Homo sapiens: one gene and its partners. The protein of the gene in region 2 interacts with the protein of the main gene of each other region in a biochemical or structural test. Each region holds a gene or a part of one and is shown on either strand. Other genes may lie near its edges. The genes, in order: NMNAT2, MYCBP2 and FBXO45.

Region 1 (7,358 bases), on a different chromosome or scaffold from region 2:
CTGGTTTCTTTAGACATGAGACAAAGATCTTAAGGAAAAGCACATATATGAATCTCACTTAGTTGATGGCCAGTTTAATTCTCTTAGTTTATGGTTCATGAAAATAGAGTGTTCATGGAATTATGCAGTCAGAAGATGAGCGGGCACTTCCTCCAGCCTTTGTTGCAGTATGAAGGCCTCTGCAAGAGGAATCAGGAACATGAGGCTCAAGTCTCAGTGCCACCCATTCTCCATGTGTGTTCATAAGTCACTTGGCTTCTGTCAGTTTCTCATTTGTAAAATAAGGGTAATAATGTTTTTCTTATAAGGTTTTTAACAGGAATAAGTAACATAACATAGATGAAATGGCTTTGTTAACCAGAACTGCTCTACAAAAATAAATTATAAAATTTATCCAGAGCTCAAAGATTCCAATAAGACATTCTACCAAAAATAGTTGAATGTGTATTTTGTGTTCTTATTCTTGCCTCATTTTCACCTGTTTATGTGCTAAATTCTTCATTAGGTAATAAACTCCTTAAAGCCATAGTGAGTGAACATATTATATCCTTTTTTTGTATTACTCTCTGAATTATACTTTAATGGACATGCAAAGGACTTTGTTCACATTCTGCCCTGGTCCTCAGTTCTTATACTAAGTAAATAATCGTTACTGCCAAAAGTCTCCTTTCACCTTTCTATATCTAAACCCTTCCACTGCAACTCAGGTCTATTTCCACATAGTCTATCCTTGAAGCTCATGGAGAATTGGCAGGTCAGCATTCGCTTAACAAAAGCCTTTATTACTGTTAACAAAGAATCTTCAGCTACAAGACAGAATCTTTGGTTCTCAATCCAAATCTGTTTCTCTTGTAATCTAAAACAACTGGGATTTCCTAGCTTCAGGAAGAAAGGAGCAGTACCTGCTGGGTCATCAAAGATTCTTAGAGCCACAGAGTTTCATCCCCAGCCCAATGGCTCTTCCCTACTCCTCCTTTCTCTTGGTTCCAAAGGAAAACCCATCATTGCCTGGTCAAGGGAGAGGAGTAAAGCGCATCAACATAAAGTGCTAGAGGACATATGGACAGACAGGAAAAGAAGGAAAGGGATGAAGACACCAGCATCAAAGGAAAGTGAAAGTGGAGTGTTCTTAGGGCACTGATAGTCCTTAGAAGACTGATGACATGCTCTTGTCTACCCTGATGCTGGAACAGAAGTCCTTATTTAACAGGCAAGTTGGCATTGGTTCTTAATAAAAGACTTTTGAAAGCTGAAGGAATGGTGAAGAAGGGATGGCTATCTCTCAGCCTCCCTCCTTCTATCGTGTAGATATGCCTACCCGATTTGCCCTTTGCTCAAAGTAGTTCTATATTCTTTCCATGAGGTTTTTAACAAGCGAGCCCAGTTCAGCGCACCTTTTAAGTTTAAAGATGAATATTTTTAGCCTAAGCCACCTCGCCCTGTCTTTACCGCTGTGGTGTGGTTTTCACTAAACCTCCCTAGGAGGGCTCGCGCAGTCCTCAGGCTCCGGATAAACACGTGTGCCCGCATCCAGCTCCGGCGCGCCCTGCATTTCAGCACCGCCGCCTCTGGAGAGCGCCTTGCTGGCGGGCCAGGTCAGGGCCTCCCACACGCTCTCTCATCCATCCCAGCCCACTCGCTTTTCCCTACTCCTCGCTTCTCTCAGTTTCAAGAAAAAGCACCCCCAACTTCTAACTTCTCAATTCCTGCTTCTAAAGTGACCTCCGCGTCCCTCTTTCCGTGTCTAAACGCTCATGCCCCACGCCTTTGAGTCCTACGAGCAGCTGCGAAGCCGCGTGGCTTCCCACCGGTGGCGCGAGACCTCCAATAGGCATCTATCGATCACCTTTCCCCTACCGCTGCTGGACCCCGAACCAGCCAGCCGGATGCCCCCGCTCGCTCTCTCTGACTCCACGCCCCAAAGCTTCTAAGAAACAAACGCGCGATAAGTCCCCTCCCCCCAACACGCACACGCATATACTCACACACAGTCATTCGCACATTCGTACACACACTAGACGCCTCAAGCCTTCCGAGTGCCATCGCCACCCTGGGCAGAGCCTCAGCCAACTTGGGCCCCGATCCTTCGGCTCCGGCTCGCGCAGGGCCTCCCGCAGCCTCCGCCCGGCCCCCTCCCCGTCCTAGGCAGCGGGTCCCTGAGGCCGAACCTAGGCGGAAAAGGGCCCCCTCCCTATTCACTCAGCATCCACCTCGCGCGGGCAATACACGGCCCACAATTCCCAAACACTGGTCCCTGGGCCGCCCAGAATCACCAGCCAAATCCGAAATTAATCTTGAAGCCCCAGCCCCTGTCACCGGTGTGTCGGGCGCGAGTGTGTTTGCGAATCCCAGGCACATACATGATTTAACTCCTTCGAGCTTTCGGCCCATCCTAAACAAACAGCACGTTATCTCCAGCCCCTTCCTCCCCTACTCGGCGCCCCAACCTCTGCCCCCATCCCGGTCTTCGCCAGCCTGGTAGCCGAACCACCGCACCGCCACACTCCAGTTCTGGTATCTCGAACCCCTGCCCAGCCCCAAATGATACTCATCTCTAGTCCCCTCCCATCCCCCACCTTTGGCCCCCTGCGAGCCGGGTCTGGCCCCGGCAAGTGACGCCTCGGAAACGCAGTCTGCGTACCCTCCCCTGAGTCCAAAATGAAGGGGCCGACCTCCACCAGCTGGATGAGCCGGCCCACCCCTCCGAAGGGGCACACGCCTTCCCGTTCGATCGCCCTGGAAAACACAGGTGCCTGGGAAAGGAGAGGAGCGGAAGCGGCTTCCAGAGGTGGGCGGGAGGACTCACCAAACATCTGAATGTGCCCTTTGGTGATGGGATTGAAGCTGCCGCAGGCGAGCAAGATAACGTGGGTCTTGGTGGTCTCGGTCATGGTGCAGATGGGTCCTTCGCGGTGGTCTAGGGGTTGCCTCTCTTTTTGTGTCTCGTTGTGTCTGCAGAGGGAGAAAGGAAGGCGAGGCTCCGGCGGTGGATGCTGTGGACTCCAAGGAGCCGCTCCAGACGCAAACCGCGTCACTCTCCGCCTCCCCTTAACGCTTGCAGCTCCGGCTAGATCCGAGGCTGCTTTTGTATTGCTCTGCTCTCTTCTCTCCTCGGTCGCTCTCTTTTCGTTCTGGCTTCCTTCGCATCTCTCGCCTGGTGCCCCACCCCATCCTCTCTATCGCCCCCAGCCCACTTCACTCCATCACTGTCTTCCTTAGAGTTTATCCAGAAGGCAAGACGTGGTATCCAAGCTCAGAACCAAGAGCCCACAGCATGGTGTGAGCTCTTTCTGCCTCTTGCCTCATCTTGATTCAGTTTTCCTCCTCATTCTAACATTTTTCTGTCCCCCCTACTTTCTCTAACATCTCCAAGTTAAAAAATGTTTGATCTTAAGGTATTTTTTCTTTCTCTCTTCCTCAAAATTTTAAGTGAGAAATGACCATTGTTTATTTCAGTAGTATTCATTTCTGCTTTTCCTTTTTCCTTTATCTGATGATTCCAAACTATTGAGTTGAGTCCAAATCTTGATCTGCTGGCTGCAGAGAGATAGGGGTGATCTAAGCCCTTCCTCTGCAATACTGATCCTTTTCGTGGGCGAAGCAATGCTATCCGTTTGAGAGAACATGAAGGGGGCAGAGTTACTAAAACTGTATTAGAAAATTATGGGGATCCGCCGGGTGCGGTGGCTCATGCCTGTAATCTCAGCACTTTGGGAGGCCGAGGCGGGCGGATCACGAGGTCAGGAGTTCGAGACCAGCCTGGCCAGCACGGTGAAACCCTGTCTCTACTAAAAAGCAAATACAAAAACTAGCCGGGCATGGTGGCGAGTGCTTGTAATCCCAGCTACTCAGGAGGCTGAGGCAGGAGAATTGCTTGAACCTGGGAGGCAGAGGTTGCAGTGAGCGAAGATCGCACCACTGCACTCCAACCTGGGCGACAGCGAGAATCCATCTCGAAACAAAAAAAAAGAAAAAAGAAAATGATGGGGATCCTCCATAAGCTACCAAAGTTGAGACAAAGACTTACCATTTAACAAGTGTTTCTTGAGGGCTCATTATGTGTCAAGTATTGCTATAAACCCTGCTGGTGAAGCAAAGTCACTGTCTTCATTTTACTGGAGGAAGATAGACAATAAATATTAGATGGCAATTGTGCAATGCACAGTAAGTGAATGCAATTTACTCTCTGACAGAGCAGAGAGTGAGTGGAGAAGAGAGGACGAATCAAGTAGTCTGAGAAGGCCTCTCTGGGGAGGTGACATTTCAGTGAGACCTGAGCGACAGGAGTAGTTGCTAGCTCACGTATTCAGGGACAGGGAAGGGCTTACTGTATTCATAGAAATGAAAGGCCAGTGATGCTAGAAAGTATGGGCAAGGGGAAAAATGATAGAAGACTGAGCAGCAGGTGATCAGGGCCAGATCAAATGGGGCTTGTAGACTAGGGCAAGAGTTAGACACTTTTCTAAGTGGAATAATAACAAAAGGAAGCCACTGAAGCTTTTAAGCAGGGGAATAATATGTAATTTACATTTTTATAGGATCACTCTGGCTGCTGGGTGGAAAGGGAGGGCAAATGGGAAGACAAGGAAAGCATTTAGGAAAATCTGGTAGCCTAGGCAAGTGGAGTTGTCCTGAGACCAGGGTTTATAGAGACGGGAGCAACGAGAAGTAGATGGTCTCAGGATATGTTTTATAGATTTTGAAATTTGGCTTAAACAATGAGTAGACTGAAATTGAGAATGGTAGGGGAAGATAGATGTTCTATGCTTATACAACAGAAAGAACCAATAATTCTTTGCAGATGAATTGGATATAGAGGATAATTCTTTTTTTTTTTTTTTTTTTTTTTGAGACAGGATCTCACTCTGTCACCCAGGCTGGAATGCAGTGGCATGATCTCAGCTCACCACAGCCTCGATCTCCTGGACTCAAGCAATCCTCCCACTTCGGCCTTGCAAGTAGCTGGGACTACAGGTGTTTGCCACCATGTCCAGCTAATTCTTCGTGTTTTTTGTAGAGATGGGATCTCACTATATTGCCCAGGTTGGTCTTGAACTCCTGACCTCAAGCAATCCACCCACGGCAGCCTCCCAAACTGTTGAGATTAAAGGCATGGGCCACAGACCCAGCCAGAGCCAATAATTCTTAACTTAGAGATTGACAAGTACAAATACGTACCTATCCTGGGCTTCAAGTTTCTTGGATAAATTTCCACCCCATATTAGTGAGTTGGTCACTGTGTTTTTTCTTATCCAAGAGCATGTGGTAGGTGTGGAGTAAATATTTGTTAAATTATGATGAATAGCAAATCAACCCTAATACGCATAAAATTTCTAGTTTAAATAGAAGACTCCTAAGAACTGATATATATTTATAATGGGGTTTGTATCTTCCCTAATATGATATGCAGATTAGTGGCTTAAAAAGAGCTAGAGCTTGTAAAGGGAGGTTGACTCAGGTATGAAACTGAGACTCACTAGCTAGGCAATTGACATAATTATAGTTAAGCAATCAATATTTATTGAGTGTCAGCCATGCACCAAGCCCTGATTTAGGGGCTGTGAACAAAACAGAGTCCCTGCTTTAATACAGCTCACATTCCAGGGGAAAACAACAGACCATAAACAAATGAATAAACATAATGGTAAAAAGTACCATAAAGAAAAATAAAGCAGAATGTGAAGAAAAGAGAAAGAAAGAAAATCCTCTTTTATTTGCAGGGGTCAAAGATGGCCTCTTTGATAAGACAGTGTTTGAACAGGGACCTAAATGAAGTGAAGGTATGTGTCACTTGAATATCTAGGGAAGAATATACCAGGCAGGACTGCTAGTATAAAGGATCGGAAGACTAAGAGTGCTTGGGGGTGTTTGACAAGCACACCAAGGTGACTGGAGAAAACAAAGAATGTGGAAAGCACTCAAAGACAGGTCCAAAAAGAAGGACAGATCATACAGGGCCTTGTAGGTCTTAATTAAGGCTCTGGTTTTTTCACTTAGAAGGGATGGGAAGCCATTCGAGGGTTTTGAGTGGAGAAGTGACATGAGGTGACTCAACGTTTGAAAAGTATGTTTGGCAGAAGATATAAATTTTGGAGTCTTCAGTGTAGTTTATATTTAAAGTCATGGGACTAGATGAGGTTACCTAGGGAGAAACAGATATACAGAGTGAAAAGGAGGTCCTCAGTTTCAACCCTGGGGCACACCAAATTAATAATAGTAGCTAACATTCATTGGGTGTTACTAGAAGCCCAAGCACTGTAAAATGTTTACAGATGTTAACTCTTTAACACTCACAATAACTCTGTGAGTTTGTATGATTTTATTCTATCTTAGAGATAAGCCTACAGGGGCACAGGGAAATTAAGTAACTGGTCTGGGTTGAGACTGCTAGCATGTATGGAACCAGATTCAAACCCTGACAGTTTTGATTGAAGGCCCTACTCTTGATACAAGGCTACTCTCTCATCTTGTTTCCCTGCTATGCTATACTGGCCATATTTGTAAAATGAGGAAAACAATACCCACCAAGCTGCAGAGATGTGAAGATTAGAGGTAATGTATGTAGAACACCTAGCATATAGTAGATGATCAATAAATGATAGCTAGTTCATAATTGAGAGAATAGGACTTCTTAGCAGAGATTGGAGAACAGACTGAGAGATACCTTACCATGTGCTAAGGTCTGAATGTTTCTGTCCCCCAAAATTCATATATTGAAACCTAATCCCCCATGTCATGGTCTTAAGAGGTAGGGTGATATGGTTTGGATCTGTGTCCTCACCCAAATTTCATGTTGAATTGTAATCCCACGTTGGAGGTGGTGCCTAGTGGGAGGTGATTGGGTCATGGTGGCAATTTCTCATGGTTTAACACCATCCCCCATGTAGGTGTTGTCTTGATAGTGAGTTCTCATGAGATCTAGTTGTTTAAAAGTGTATAGCATCTCTTTCCACCCACTCCTCGTGCTCCAGCCATGTAAGTCCTGCCTGCTTCCCCCTTGCCTTCCACCATGTGTAAAAATTTCCTGAGGCCTCCCTAGAAGCCGTTATGCATTCTGTACAAGCTGCAGAATCATGAGCCAATCAAACCTCTTTTCTTTATAAATTACCTAGTCTCAGATATTTCTTTAAAGCAGAGCAAGAACATACTAATGCATAGGGCCTTTGAGAAGTGACTAGATCATGAGCTGGAAGCCCTCATAAATGGGATTAAAAGAGGCTCAAGGGAGCTCATTTGTTCCTTCTACCATGTGATGACACATCTATGAACCAGGCATCAAGCCCTCACCAGACACCGAATCTGCTGGTGCCTTAATCTTGGACTTCCCAGCCTCCAGTGAGGAATAATTTCTGTTGGAT
Region 2 (7,797 bases):
ACCCAAAGGAAAGAAAATCAGTATATAGAAGAGATGTCTGCGCTCCTGTTTGTTGCAGCACTGTTTACAATGGCCAAGATTTGGAAGCAAACTTATTGATGTAAGTGTCCATCACCCTATAAAGGGATAAAGAAAACGTGGTACACACATACACAATGGAGTACTATTCAACCATAAAAAGAATGAGATCCAGTCATTTACAATAGCATGGACTGAACTACAGATCATTATGTTAAGTGAAATAAGCCAGACACAGAAAGACAAACATCACATGTTCTCACTCGCTTGTGGGATCTAAAAATCAAAACAATTGAACTTATGGACATAGAGAGTAGGATGGTTACCAGAAGCTGGGAAGAGTCATGAGGAGTTTGGGGAGGGGAGATGGGGATGGTTAATGGGTACAAAAAAAAAAAATCAGAAAGAATGAATAAGACCTACTATTTGATAGCATAATAGGGTGACTATAGTCAATAATAACTTAATTGTGTATTTTAAAATAACTGAAAGAATGTAACTGGATTGTTTGTAACTCAAAAGATAAATGCTTGAGGGGATGGATACCTTATTCTCCATCATGTGCTTATTTCACATTGCATGCCTGTATCAAAATATCTCATGCATCCTATAAATATATACACCTTCTATGTACCCACAAAAAAATTTTAAAGTAATAACAAAATTTAAAAAAGATTAATCTAATAACTTATAAACTATACTAAAGTTTTCAAGGTTGAAATGCTATAGTTTTAAACTTTCTGTTTTTAGGACAATTATACTTTATATAACTTTCTACATCAGTTGTGAAAACATCCTCTAGGCTAAATGCATCACAACAATGAGATTTTGAAAGAATGTGATTTGCATTCAGATATATAGTATTGAATTCACATACTTAAAAAACATATACTAATATATTTTAGGATAATTTTTCACGGATGAAAATGTCAATATATGTCAATATATAACTTAGGATCCCTGGAACCTAAATTTTTGGATGTGGGAAAACTTGGACATATAATTTACATCTTTTAAAACTACCATGAATAAAAAAGAAAAACATTAACTCATCATGCTTACAAGTTACTGAATATCCCAAGGCCCTAAAAATATAGTTGTTTAAAGCATGAGGTTAAGATAGCCAGGGGATGCAATATGTAATTTATGTTTAAAATAATTTCGATAGCCATGTTGAATTTTTCCCTTCAGCTTGGAGTACTAAATATATTCTATGAAATATACTTTATTTTAAAGTGCAATATATTTGTCAAGAATGCACTATCTTATTACCCTTAAAAAGAGAAGGTCACTGAAGAGTAAAGCATGTCTTCACTCTTCAAGCCTAAGCTTTTTCTTTTTTTTTTCCCAAATTGTTCTCAGCTACCAATTTTGTTTTTAAATTCCCCAATACATTGTTGTACAAATCCAGGAAACAAACGCAGACTTTACCACAGCATTTTCAGCAGTCTCGATGTACCTAATAATATACATACTTCCTGTGTTTGTAGTCTTGTAGCTTTAGTACAATATTAACCCTTTAAATGAAACAACACTAATCTGTCCTCTTATATACACGTTATGGTTCCTGCCCTGTTATTTACTACATCAGCACGGGTAGCTTCCTTTAAAAACAAAATCGTTAAAGATGAGAGTAGGAAAAATGTAAATGTGATAAGAGTTCAAAAAACTGTGGTCCAGGTTTGCAATGTTAAGTGGAAAAGAACGACTAAATCTGTGATCACAAGGGGAAAGATGAAGCCATAGTCTTATTACATGGGCACAGGACAGAGAGATCTCTTTTGCGAAATGAGCATACCAACCACAAAGAATAAAACATACTACGCCCGTAATAAAATGGGCACAGGCAGGATTTGCCGTAGTTCAATGCTATTCTTTGAGGGCGAATGTGTCGTGGGTGAACTGCTGTCTAGCCCATTCCGACACCCAAGCCGCCCAGGCGGCCCCCACGCCCCCCGGCTGCAGCCCTCCCTGTACACACAAATGCACACACGCCCAGCCCGGCCGCTGGAGGAACTAAGATGGCAGCGCAGAAAGCACGGGGGCCGAGCTCGGTGGGGTGGGGAAAGAAAAGCAAAGCCCTCTGTGTTTTTTCATTCTGTATAGGTCCCCCTCTTTCCCCAAACACAAGGGCTGCGTAAGGCATTCGGTAGTAGAGCTCGCAGGAGCGGCGGGAGGGGACGCTTGCTTTGCATACTGCCAGAAACCCACGTCTCCGATCTGCAGCGACGGTTCAGGCGACCCTCGCGACTTGTGACCACACTCTCCTTCACGTCCCCTTGACAGTAGAAGTAAGGGTGACTCCAAATGCCTTTTTCTTTCTGGCATGCGCCCCACTCCCCCGCCATCCCAGGGGAGCCTTCCAAGTTGCCCAGCTGCCAAGGCGGTAGCTGTGGCAGTTGCAGGGACCGGGGAGCGCGCCGTGCGGAGGCAGGAAGAGGAGGAGGAGGAGAAAAAACGCTGCACTGGCTATCAATTTTGAGGAGAGCGACCGCTGCCGCTGCCGTGGAAGGAAACGCTGCCAACCGCAACAGAAATGCCACTCTCGGATACCTAAGTGAGCATGTGTGCGACTCTGCGCACGCCTAGTTGCGCAGCTCAATGACATCGGGCTTCTTAGCAAGTTATCCAGTTTCCGGGTTTTGAGTGTACCCATCAGGCTCCGTAGGGGCCTGTCTGGGACTGAACAGCAGTAAAGATTGAAGCGAAATTAATGAATGGTGGGAAGAGCCCGGAGACCAGGGCAGCCACGCGGGTCAATGTCCACTAGAAACTCTAAATGGGCAGTGACTGCACATTCCACCACCTGAGCCTGCGCTGTAAATGTTTTCTGTGCAAGCAACATTCATTCATTCAGCCAACATCTATTTCCCTCCTGTTCAGGGCTAGACCCTGTGCTAGGAGCCTGTGATGGTTGAACAGACACCATTGCTACCCTACGGAAAACCTAGTGTTTTGTTTAGTATGTGCTACCATTTGTGAAAATTCATGTGCCAAGTTGGACATCCTAGATCCTTTAAGTCCTCCCTCAATCTCATGTAGTGGGTATTCTTTTGAGCATTATTCAGAGGAGATAATTTGCCCAAAGCCAGACAAGTATTAAGTAGCAGAGTCAGGATCCAATTCCAGGGCTGTCTGATTTCAGAGCCTTTTAGCTACCCTGCTAGGTCTTGCAATAGTAATGGGCCCTCTCATTGCTTACCTGTCAGGCCTTAGAATTCTTAGAATTTAGCTGCCTCTACACCATTGTCTTGGTTCTCACTCCAGGGTTAGGGGCTGCCTGGTCAACACTGAGGTCTTTAACTGTGCTGAAGCATTAGGATAGAAATTTAGTCTAATAAATACTTACTGGATACCTACTACATGCAAAGTCCTGAAGTGGCTGAAGGAGACACAAAAGCAGCAAGCTCTGAAGGAACTTAGGTAAGGAAACAAGACAAATACAAAAACTTAACAGGGCTAATTACAGTACTAAAATACTATGATTCCACATGTCTTGTCCTTTGTTCCTATGTTTATCCCACTGCTAATTATCTTTAAAAAAACTAAATGAAATCCATCCATTATTTAAAGCTTCAGAAAAAAATGCATTGCTTTCAGCAACCTTCCACCCTAAAACTAGAATTAATTTACTTTCCTATTCCTTGTTGTTTGCACTTCTCAAACACTAAGGAGGATTTTTTAACATTTATTTTATTTTTTTTTAAGAGAAGGCCATCCGAAGAAGAGGCACAGATATAAGAACTAGTACATAGATGAAAGATACAGTACTGGGATGACAGAACTTATAAATTATTTTGTCAGGACTGTAAATTAGGAAACTCTTCAAATTGAGAGTCAAAGGATAAAACGTAGTAGGAATCAAAGTGCATTGGCACGTATATTTCTAGAGCATATACTTAGATGGGGTTCGTAGGTTAGCTTGGAACAAAGGACTGAGCAAATGTTACTTTTTTATAGACAACAACAAGATATGTGATGGATCTGACATTTTCAGACGCTATACAGTCTCCGTCACAATTATTGTTTCAGATCGCATTCAAGAATTATCTTTAAAAATGTAAGTTTGGGCAGAAAAAAATAAACCATTAAATGACCACTGCCAAGAGATAAAAGTGCACTCTTAGGTGAGTGAGGAGTCAATAAAAAAGAGTAATTTAAAAAATATTATTGCTCCGTTGAGAACAAGAATTTGGGAATGACTCTGGCTTGTGAATACTAGCCTATCTGTTATACTTTCACACACAAAATACTTTCACACACAAAAAAGAATGTGCTAGATTACTACCTGTCTTTGTAAGTAAAAGCTGTGTTAAACAAGCGTAAATCCTAATGACAAAAACCATATAAAATAAGATCGCTAAAGGCACTTCTAATTGGGATGGTTTTCTCTGCCTTAAACTCTGAATTAACCAGCACAATTCACAGTAAATCTTCCTGTTGGCAGCAGAGCCTTGGAGAAGAGGTAGCAGAAGAGCGTGCCACTCCTCCTCTGGCGATGGGCACGTTCCCCCTTGCTTTCTGGTCCTCGTTCTTCCACCTGGAGGGAACCTGAAGTCGAACGTCAGTAGCTGACAGCCTCCCCAGCACTTTCCTTACTCTTCTTCAAGCTGCCAGTAAAACCCGGAGAAGTGGACTACTTCAGATTCCGCACAACCCAACAGCCCCAAACCCAAAGCCCCGAGGCGGAGGGAGTGGTGGCGGAGAGGGGGTGGGGAGGAAAAGGGGCGGCAGTTACTGAGCATGTGCGAGGAGTGGCGCATGCTCTGTGAGGCCGGCAGCTTCCCATTGCGGGTAGCCCCGGCGGTGGTGGCGGTGGTAGCGGTGGTGGCGGCGGCAGTGGCGGCACCGCCTCCTCCTCACATTCCCGGGGTGGCGGGGTTAGATGAGCGGCCCCAGTAGCGGCGAGGGCGGCGCGGGGGGGAGGAGGAGAAGAAGGAGGAGGAGAAGGAGGTCGCTGTCTTTGTAGTCTCCCTGCTGCGGGAGCCAGAGGCCGCCGCCGGAGCCGTCGTCGTTGGAAAAGGGCTGTGTGTGCGCGCGCGTGTCTGCCCGCCCGGCCCGCGGGGACGAGGCGGCGGCGGCGGCGGCGGCGGCGAGGATGATGATGTGCGCAGCGACTGCCTCCCCCGCCGCCGCCTCCTCGGGGCTCGGCGGGGACGGATTCTACCCAGCCGCCACCTTCTCTTCCTCCCCGGCGCCGGGGGCGCTGTTCATGCCGGTTCCCGACGGCTCCGTGGCTGCTGCGGGGCTGGGGCTGGGGCTACCCGCCGCGGACTCCCGGGGTCACTACCAGCTGCTGCTGTCAGGCCGGGCCCTGGCCGACCGCTACCGGAGGATTTATACCGCTGCGCTCAATGACAGGGACCAGGGGGGCGGCAGCGCTGGACACCCAGCCTCCAGGTGCGTCCCCAGGGTGCCCTTCCTTGCGCCCCATGCCGCCCTTCCTTGCGCCCCATGCCGCGCGTGCACCCGCGTGTGTGTGTGCTTGCGTGTGTGTACCTGCGCATTTATTGAGCTTTCAGTCCGCTCTGGATGTCTGTTGGCAGGAGCACTTATCGAGATAGGAGGGTGCGGTGGCTGCAGTTTCTCGTGTGTGTGTGTGTGTGTGTGTGTGTGTGTGTGTGTGTGTGTGTCTGCCTGCCTATGTGGGGGGATAGTGAGGGGTGGTAGGGGAACCTGTGATGCTGGAAAAGGCGATGGTGCTGGTCGGCTGTGACACGTGTGTGTATCGTTGAGGTAGGAGGTGGCATGGGTAGAGAGGGTAAGAGGATGATACACGAAGAGAATTGCAACAGTGGCAAGGGAAGTGGCGTTTTCAGTGTCTCTGCCGCAATGTTATTTGCACGTGCCGCCTCTCCCATGACATTCCTTCCAGCCCTTTCCACCTCCCTTCAATCTGCCTTTCACCAAGAGGAGTCATGGTATAGATTGGTTGAGTTTTGGATAAGCAGGCCCGAGGGATAGGCGTGAGGTTTGCTTTAAAAAGATTTATGAATAAGGGACGCAGATGGAGATCTGTGTGGATGCGAAAGGTGTCTGATAGAGATTTTTAGAGCTGTACTTTGATAACCGGGCCTTTTGGTCTTCTAGAAATGAGGTTGCAGTTACTCTTGTGATCTGATGTCCCATCGGCCATTTCTCTTCATCCTCTGTTCGATTTCCTCTGTTACTTACAGGCTTTAGAGTAGAGAGGGTTTTGTAGGGAAAAGGGGAAAACTGCAGAACTTCAGAATATGACAGCTGGTACAGCGTTCAACTGCCACTAGCTAGAAAATCTGAATAGCGCGTAGATTTGTCTCTTTTACTTGGGTTGGCTACACCTTCAGCTTCCTTGATGTAGATGTTCAGTTGGTTTCATTTTCTTTTTCTTAAAATGTGGGTGCTTTTTTTTGCTGAGGGCTCTCCTATTGTTTTCTTTTCCATGCCCTTACATGCCGCATACCCTGAAGGTTGGTGACTGACTTGTTTCACCAGCTTTGACAGTGGTAATTGGGAGTTGGCTTCATCTTTTTTTTCCCACAGCTTCTTGCAGTACATGGGGAAAACATAGTAGGAAACTGTCAAAATGAGTTAAAGAGTTTACTGTTATTTATTGAATGTGCAATTTATTAGGCAATTGTTAGGTGTCTTTTTCTCCCATTATGAAAGGGACGAGGCTGTAAGTCAGGTATTTGTAGCTTATCACTAGGTATCATGGCTTATCTGTTGGAGACAGTTGTAAAGCTGGAGCTTTGTTCACACTTTTTCTAGGTTAACCAGTTTTCTCATGTCTGTGATTGTTTACAGGATTGGGCACAGCAGTAGTTTTACCATATGGATGTAAACGTGTGTAACTATTTTTTGCTATCTGAACTGAAGGCCAGAATGGCACAAGTCTGTTTCTTGCTAATGCTTTTGAAAATAGCACAAAACTACGTGAGACAGTTTGCCCTGATAATTAGGTATAATTTTGATCTGTAAATCTCTAAATTATGGCACCGCAGGAACATCTTTACAAACTCCTCTCAAAGAATTTAAATTTATTTTGTGTATGGTTTCCAGACTTATGCAATAATTTTTGACTTGTATATTCCTGTTTTGACTTCCTACTACTAGTGTAATATGATTTCTGTGTATCTAGAACTATATTAACGGTTTTAGACAAAATTAACATAGATTAATCATATAACATTTGTGAATGATTTTTTAGCCCTTGGTCCATTTTTGTACAAGCCGTCAATGAAAAGTAATGAAGAATTAGTTCAAGTATTTCAAGAACTACTCATGGAAATCAGCATTATGTTATGATATTGCCTGCTAATGCTTGTTCAACGCAACATTATTGTTTATTTAAGTTCACATTATTTTATTACAAAAAGTAGCCTGCAACTACTCTATTGATGATTTGATTAAGAATTAAATCACATTTCTTATTAAAGATGTTGAGGAAAGTAGACTTGGGGTTTCGGCTCTGAATGAATGATAGAATTATTTGTATAGGGACACAAGTTAAAGGAGAAGATGATATCTTTTAGAGAGACTGAATGGAGCAATAATAGAGAATGAAGCTCTAGTGAGCATCAGGTTTAAAGGTGTGAGAGAAAGGAGACAGTGAAGGAAACGGAATCAAAATTAAGAAGAAAATCATGAAACAGTAGCCTCTGTGGCTCTAGGAGAGTGGATTGAAAATTCTCAGAAGTGGTAAATGTTGAAGAAAGTGAGAACCGTTTTCAGGTCATTGATAACTTTTGAGGAAGTGGTCAGAATAGAGGGATGTGGTGAGGAGTGAATGGAATGTGT
Region 3 (6,951 bases), on a different chromosome or scaffold from region 2:
GCATACAGGTTTTGGATCCCAGCTGGGATTTTAGGTTTTCTCTGAAACAAGAATGAGGCAAGGTTTCTAGTGCTCCTGTTTCTCCATTACAAATCTACCCACAGGAGAGCCAAATAAATGCTGACTGACAGACAAAAGTTTTAGCAGGTTTTCTTCCTAATTTAATTCTTTTCTAGAAAAGATTAACTCAATCTTCAAGGTTCATTCAGTTAAGTTTTGCTCCGAAGTGTGAGAAGACAGGCAATAAACGAATTTTGTCCTTAAAGGGATTATTATAAAGACTACAGTTCCTATAAATTTTTCCACAGTGGAACCAGTAGTAACTCTTGTTCTATTAGTCTCACAAGACCCCAAGAACACTTTCATCTTATTAAACTCTACACACTAAACTCCTACTCTCTAAATCACATAGATAATATTTACTGATCATTTATCTAGTCAGAAAAATAAATAACTGTTACTGGGAATGTTAAAAAAAAAAAAAAGGCAGGGGCCAGGGGAGGCTGGGCGTGGTGGCTCACGCCTGCAATCCTAGCACTTTGGGAGGCTGAGGAGGGCGGATCACTTGAGGTCAGGAGTTCAAGACCACCCTGGCCAAGATGGAGAAACCCTGTCTCTACTAAAAATACAAAAATTAGCAGGGTGTGGTGGTACGTGCCTGTAATCCCAGCTACTCGGGAGGCTGAGGGCTTGAACCTGGGAGGTGGAGGTTGCAGTGGTGAACTGAGATTGTGCCACTGCACTCCAGCCTGGGTGAGAGTCGGGGTGAGGGGGCAGGGGGGAGTTTGGAAAGCCCCAGAAACAGAAATCCATAAACTCTGAGGCTATTAATTTTAGTCAATCAAGATTTATTATGCAAACTATTGATCAGCGATTCAACTAGAGCCTCCAAAATTGTTTACTTAGTCTATAAAACTAAAATGATTTGTTATTATTTGAAACACACCAAAGAACACTATGAAAAAGTTAATCAGATTGCTGTGATAGAAGGGTAGTGGGAAAAAATGTAATTAAAGTTGGGTTAAATCAAAACAATTTTTCAGAAATGAGTTGGCAAGCCACTGTTTCTTGCTTTTCTATGACTGCAACTGGAAAGCCTGGCAGAAAGAGGTGAAGTGTCACCATCCCCACATTCACGTATCAAGTCAACAAGCTTCTCTTTTCCTATGGAGTTGCCTAAAGCGTTAAGCACAGCAGTTAATCATATCCTACTGTAAATTACTTTAATTAGATAATAGATCACTTCCTTCTAATACCTAAAGAAATCACACAGAGTGGGTGAGGGAAAGGTGAGTTTTTTCTTGTGTTTTTTTTTTGAGACAGTATCTCCCTCTGTTACCCATACTGGAGTGTAGTGGCCCAATCTCTGCTCACTGCAACTTCCACCTTCGGGGCTCAAGTAATCCTCCCACCTCAGTCTCCCAAGTAGCTGGGATTACAGGCATGCACCACCACGCCCAGCTAATTATCTTATTTTTTGTAGAGACAGGATTTCACCATGTTGCCCAAGCTGGTCTAACTCCTGAGCTCAAGCAATCCACCCACCTCGGCCTCCCAAAGTGCTGGGATTACAGGCATGAGCCACTGTGCCCTGCCAGGTGAGTTATTTTGAGAGCATTTTTTTCTTTTTTTTTTTTTTGAGACAGAGTTTCGCTCTCGTCGCCCAGGCTGGAGTGCAATGGTGCAATCTCGGCTCACTGCAACCTCCGTCTCCCAGGTTCAAGCGATTCTTGTGCCTCAGCCTCCTGAGTAGCTGGAACTACAGGCATGCACCACCACGCCCGGTTAATTTTTGTATGTTTGGTAGAGATGGGGTTTCACCATGTTGGCCAGGCTGGTCTCAAACTCCTGACTGCAGGTGATCCGCCCGCTTCGGCCTCCCAAAGTGCTGGGATTCCAGGCGTGAGCCACGGCACCCGGCCGAGAGCATTTTTTAAAAGGGTGAAGTGCCACAGCCGGCAGTTCTCATCAGCCAGAGCGCAGAATGAGAGTACTGAACATGGGGAAGGGGCTTGGTGGGGTGGGTGATGAGCAGGTGAAAGATTTGTAAAAAAGAAAAGGAGGGGTTGAGAAGGGTAATCTTACTTTGAAATTCTACCTGGGGCGCTCAGGAGACGGTCTGCCGTTGAAAGTCACCTCAGCGGCTGGACTAGATTAGTAAGAATGACAACATCGCATCCTTCAAAGGCTCTGCCTCGGCTGCACTGAGACACGATAAAGGCCAGTCTTTAAAAACTGAGTGATCTCTAAACACTCTGCACTAGTCATACCACCACCGTCCCGTTCAAGAGTCTGTGCCTCTAAGGCTGTTCATTCTGTCTAGTTCATGATCCCTTTCTCAGATGGATCAACTCTGCTTATCCTTGAAGACTTCAAAGAAATTAGTGAGAGACAGTCACCATCACCAGAGTCAGCACAGGTCAACTTTTCTCTACAGGCTTGGGGTTTCTGAAGTTGGACTTGATGTGGAGAAGCTGGATAGCAACCAAAATGATTGAAGGGCTGTGGCGCTGGCACTGGTAAGAATGAAAAGAATTAGGGTTACTGGACTTGGTGAAAAAGACATGAGGAGAAGGGACAGGCAAATAATAATCAAACACCATGAATCAGAGGGTAGGGAAGGTAGCCACCGTTCCTTTGCTTTTACTAGAGACTAAGAAATGGATTATACATAGCAAGAAGCTTCAGAAAAGATTTCTTACTACATAAAGGTTCCAAGACATTGGAGTTGACCAAGGGAGTCTGTGAACCCTATTATTTTAATTACTCAGCTCATGGAGTTGTTTTGAGGATTACGTATATAAAAATCTGCGTAAATGACGTAGTATACAGTGCCTGGTTCACACCGTGGCTCAAATGATGGTTATTATTATTCTCTTACTAAGCATGCTTTAAAGGCTGTCGGAAAACTTTGGGGCCACCTAGGAAATCGTAGTATAATCAAATAATGCTGAAATTCTTGTGTGTGTGTGTGTGTGTGTGTGTGTGTGTGTGTGAGGTAGGGGCTCACTCTGTCGCCCAGGCTGGAGCACAGCAGGGCGATTACGGTTCACCTCAGCCTCGACCTCCCGGGCTCAGCCTCCCAAGTAGCTGGGACCAGAGGCGCACGCCACCACCCTCGGCTAATTTTTCTATTTTTTTGTAGCGACACTGCCTCGCAATGTTGCCCAAGCTGGGATGCTGAAATTCTTCCCCTTCCAAGAATCCATCTATAATTATAGCCTCCACGTCATTCTCCCTATTGGAATGTTTAATTGACTAAAACTACATTGCCTTCATCTGCTTACTAAGCGGTGGATCCAGTAAAGACCACATCTTGTCCAAAAGACGGCAGCACTTAATTAGCGCTCAAATGGCACTCGAACGTTTGGGCGAGGGGGTGTTCAGTCGCAGCCACCTTACTTTGCGAAGGCACACAGGGACAGACGTTCGCTAAGTGCCGATACTTAGGGAGAACGAGAGGGCCTGACCAGGTAAAGACGGCCTCCGCTGCCCAAGCTACACAAAAAGGTTGGGGAGCCAGGACCCGGCAAGCAAGGAGAGAAAAGTTTCATGCGTTGAGCTGGAGTCTGAAGCAAGGACCTAACGGACACAGGGAAACGTCACAGGAAAGGGAGCCCAGGAGAGCAGACGCGGAGCCACCAGACCAGAAAAAGGAAAAAGCACTGGAAAACAGCATCGAAGTCACCGGAAAGCAGCATCGAAGCCACCGGCGCCAGCCTCATACCTGCGCTTCCCGCTCCCCTCCTCGGCGCCTAGTGATAACCTCACCCGCCGGCGCCCAATCCCGTCGAGCGTCAGGCGTGAGGCGGCGCAGCCAAACAGTCACATCCGGGGCCGAGAGGAACCGCGAACGAGCTGGGCGTGCGCCCTTGCTTCGTGCCCTCAACCCGCATGGCGGAGCCGCTGGCGCGCCGCGGAGAGGCCGGGCGAGTCGGGCGGTTTCGGCGCCCGCGCTGAGCCGCGGAGGAGGGGCGGAGGACGCCCCTGCAGCCGGTGCGTCTGCCCTCAGTGAGGCGGGGCGCGCGGCGGACGCCCCCGGGCAGGGGCGGGAGTGGTGGAGGCGCCGGCGGTTGGCACTGACAGGGGCGGTGAGCGAGCCGCTCCGGTCTCCGGGCGAGGCTTGGCCTTCCGAGCAGAGACGGCGGGAAGCGGCGGCGGCAGCGGCGGCCCTAGGGCCGGCTGGTGAGGCGATGGCGGCGCCGGCCCCGGGGGCTGGGGCAGCCTCGGGCGGCGCTGGCTGTAGCGGCGGCGGCGCGGGCGCGGGCGCGGGCTCGGGCTCTGGGGCCGCGGGGGCCGGGGGCCGGCTGCCCAGCCGGGTGCTGGAGTTGGTGTTCTCTTACCTGGAGCTGTCCGAGCTGCGGAGCTGCGCCCTGGTGTGCAAGCACTGGTACCGCTGCCTGCACGGCGATGAGAACAGCGAGGTGTGGCGGAGCCTGTGCGCCCGCAGCCTGGCAGAAGAGGCTCTGCGCACGGACATCCTGTGCAACCTGCCCAGCTACAAGGCCAAGGTGAGAGAGCCCCGGGCCACACCGCTGCCCCCAGTCCCGCTCCCCGGCGTCGTTCGCGGTGTTTCTCATCCGAGCTTCTGAGTCAGAAGCTTCGCCTCACCAGCCCGCCTTTCCACGGCTCCAGTCAGTATCTTCCTCACCTCCCCCCAAGATAAAGATTCTCTTTTCTTTGGATCGAAGTTCTGCTCCTTAACCCATCCCACTTCCGTGATCCACTTTTCAAACAACTAGGTAGTTTGCCTCACTCATTCAACTTTTGACAGTTTTCCCCGTTAAAGACAGACCACCACTCTTGTACCTTTTAATGCCCTCATCCTACTTTTCTCCCCGGCCTCCAGATAGACTTCATTATATTAAATAATCCCGGCCACCTTAACATGGGCTTAGTTTCTAAGTTTCTAAGTTTCTAGTTTGCTTTCACTCCACGTTTATCTCATCTTTTCCAAGCTCTGATTTTTAACCATTTGTTTTCATTATTTTCCCCCAAGTTCTCTTTAGTTCCCTCCACTATATTGGAGGCTTACAAGTGAGTGTAGTTCTAGTCATCCTGCTCACTTACAAGATACAGGCTTTTATAGAACGTCCACGGGCACCACCTAACATACTGCTTTGTCCTGCTGTTATTGGCTGTTTCCTTGCTAACTTTTTAATAGTTCCACATTGATGGTGTCTCTCTTTTTCTATTTGTCATCTAACGTGCTGATTACAGTTTCGCTGCATCCTTCCTGCATATTCCGCCCGCCTTCATATACAAAATAAAAATGTCAAGGAACAAGTTGTGGTACGGCTGAAAGGACTCTCAGGCCGAATAAACAAAGGGTCTTGGTCTTGAGTTGAGTTGAATGGTTAACAGCTATTCAGTATAGCAGTCAATCAAGATCATATATAAGAGAAGATAAAGTCTGATTGCAATGTGTTAAACATAATGAATGCATTAGTAACTAAAACGATAACATCCCCCCCTTTTTTTTTTTTTTTGAGACGGAGTGCAATGGCGTGATCTCGGCTCACCGCAACCTCCGCCTTCCAGGTTCAAGCAATTGTCTTGCCTCAGCCTCCCGAGTAGCTGGGATTACAGGCATGCGCCACCATGCCCGGCTAATTTTGTATTTTTAGTAGAGTTGTGGTTTCTTCTTGTTGGTTAGGCTGGCCTCGAACTCCCGACCTCAGGTGATCCGCCCTCCTCGGCCTCCCAGAGTGCTGGGATTAGAGGCGTGAGCCACCGCGCGATAACACCCCCTTTTTAATGCTAGCTTGCCAACAGGGGTCGGAGTAAGAAGTAAAAATTTTTTTTTCATGTGAAGCATGTAAAATTTATACTTATGTAGTAAAACCGGTTTTAGTTATAGAAGATAGGGAACATTGCCATTAAATATGTAAACTATCAAGTTGTTTCTCTTTTCTTTTTTCTTTTTTTTTTTTTTTTTGAGACGGAGTCTCGCTCTGTCACCCAGGCTGGAGTGCAGTGGCGGGATCTCAGCTCACTGCAACCTCCGCCTCCCGGGTTCACGCCATTCTCCTGCCTCAGCCTCCTGAGTAGCTGGGATTACAGGCGCCCGCCACCACGCCCGGCTAATTTTTTGTACTTTCAGTAGAGACAGGGTTTCACCGTGTTAACCAGCATGGTCTCAATCTCCTGACCTCGTGATCCGTCGCCTTGGCCTCCCAAAGTGCTGGGATTACAGGCGTGAGCTCATGCGCCCGGCCTCAAGTTGTTTTTCTATTAAGCGAAATAACAATAATTTACTAGGACTGTTTGTGCGTGGTGGCTATTCAGTGGATACTGGTTGTAATTTATATAGGTGAGTACAGACGATTGGAATTTTGTCCTACTTTGATAAATGTGTCGGTTTCATAAATTTTATTTAGTTTTTATTTTTCTGTAAAGTTTATTGTTTTTACTTATTTTAAACTAGGAGTTTTTGTTGTTGTTTTTGAGACAACAAAACAACAAAACTCTGTCGCCCAGGCTGCAGTGCAGTGGCACAATCATAGCTCACTGCATCCTCGACCTCCTGAGCTCAAGGGATCCTCCTTAGCTTAGCCTCCCGAGTAGCTGGCACTTCAGTCATGTGCCACCACACTGGCTAATTTTTTATTTTTTAGAGACACGGGGTCTCACCTTGTTGCCTAAGCTGGTCTCAAACTCCTGGACTCAAGCGATCTTCTTGCCTCAGCCTCCCAAAGTGCTGGGGTTACAGGCATTAGCCACTGCACCCAGCCTAAATTAGGAGTTGTTGTTTTGATAATTGACTTGTAATAGAAATGTTCACATGATTCAAGATTCATATTATAATATGTAATAGATAATGTGTTCGTGTGAGTCAAGCTTCAATAGAAGCAAAATGATATCAAGCAAAATGTTTTCCTTTCATCCTTGTCGCTCAGCTACCCGGTTCCTCTCCATGTATGCAACCTGTCTTACTTTTTCTTTTGTATC

What was found.
Region 1: of the proteins of MYCBP2 (region 2) and NMNAT2, one has a biochemical effect on the other in vitro, tested with the Homo sapiens proteins (one study listed by BioGRID).
Region 3: the proteins of MYCBP2 (region 2) and FBXO45 form a complex in vitro, tested with the Homo sapiens proteins (one study listed by BioGRID).

What each region holds. Positions count from the first base shown.
Region 1 is NC_000001.11:183,415,377-183,422,734, forward strand, and holds the start of NMNAT2 (nicotinamide/nicotinic acid mononucleotide adenylyltransferase 2), read right to left. Parts: upstream 3,005-7,358; 5' UTR 2,892-3,004; coding exon 2,807-2,891; intron 1-2,806.
Region 2 is NC_000013.11:77,324,095-77,331,891, reverse strand, and holds the start of MYCBP2 (E3 ubiquitin-protein ligase MYCBP2), read left to right. Parts: upstream 1-4,797; 5' UTR 4,798-4,903; coding exon of another isoform or gene 4,904-4,987; 5' UTR 4,988-5,116; coding exon 5,117-5,418; intron 5,419-7,797. Other genes in the region: uncharacterized LOC127898562, read left to right, coding at 4,904-4,987. UniProt on the Homo sapiens protein: Atypical E3 ubiquitin-protein ligase which specifically mediates ubiquitination of threonine and serine residues on target proteins, instead of ubiquitinating lysine residues.
Region 3 is NC_000003.12:196,564,792-196,571,742, forward strand, and holds the start of FBXO45 (F-box/SPRY domain-containing protein 1), read left to right. Parts: upstream 1-3,868; 5' UTR 3,869-4,193; coding exon 4,194-4,511; intron 4,512-6,951. UniProt on the Homo sapiens protein: Component of E3 ubiquitin ligase complex consisting of FBXO45, MYCBP2 and SKP1. Functions in substrate recognition but also plays an important role in assembly of the complex.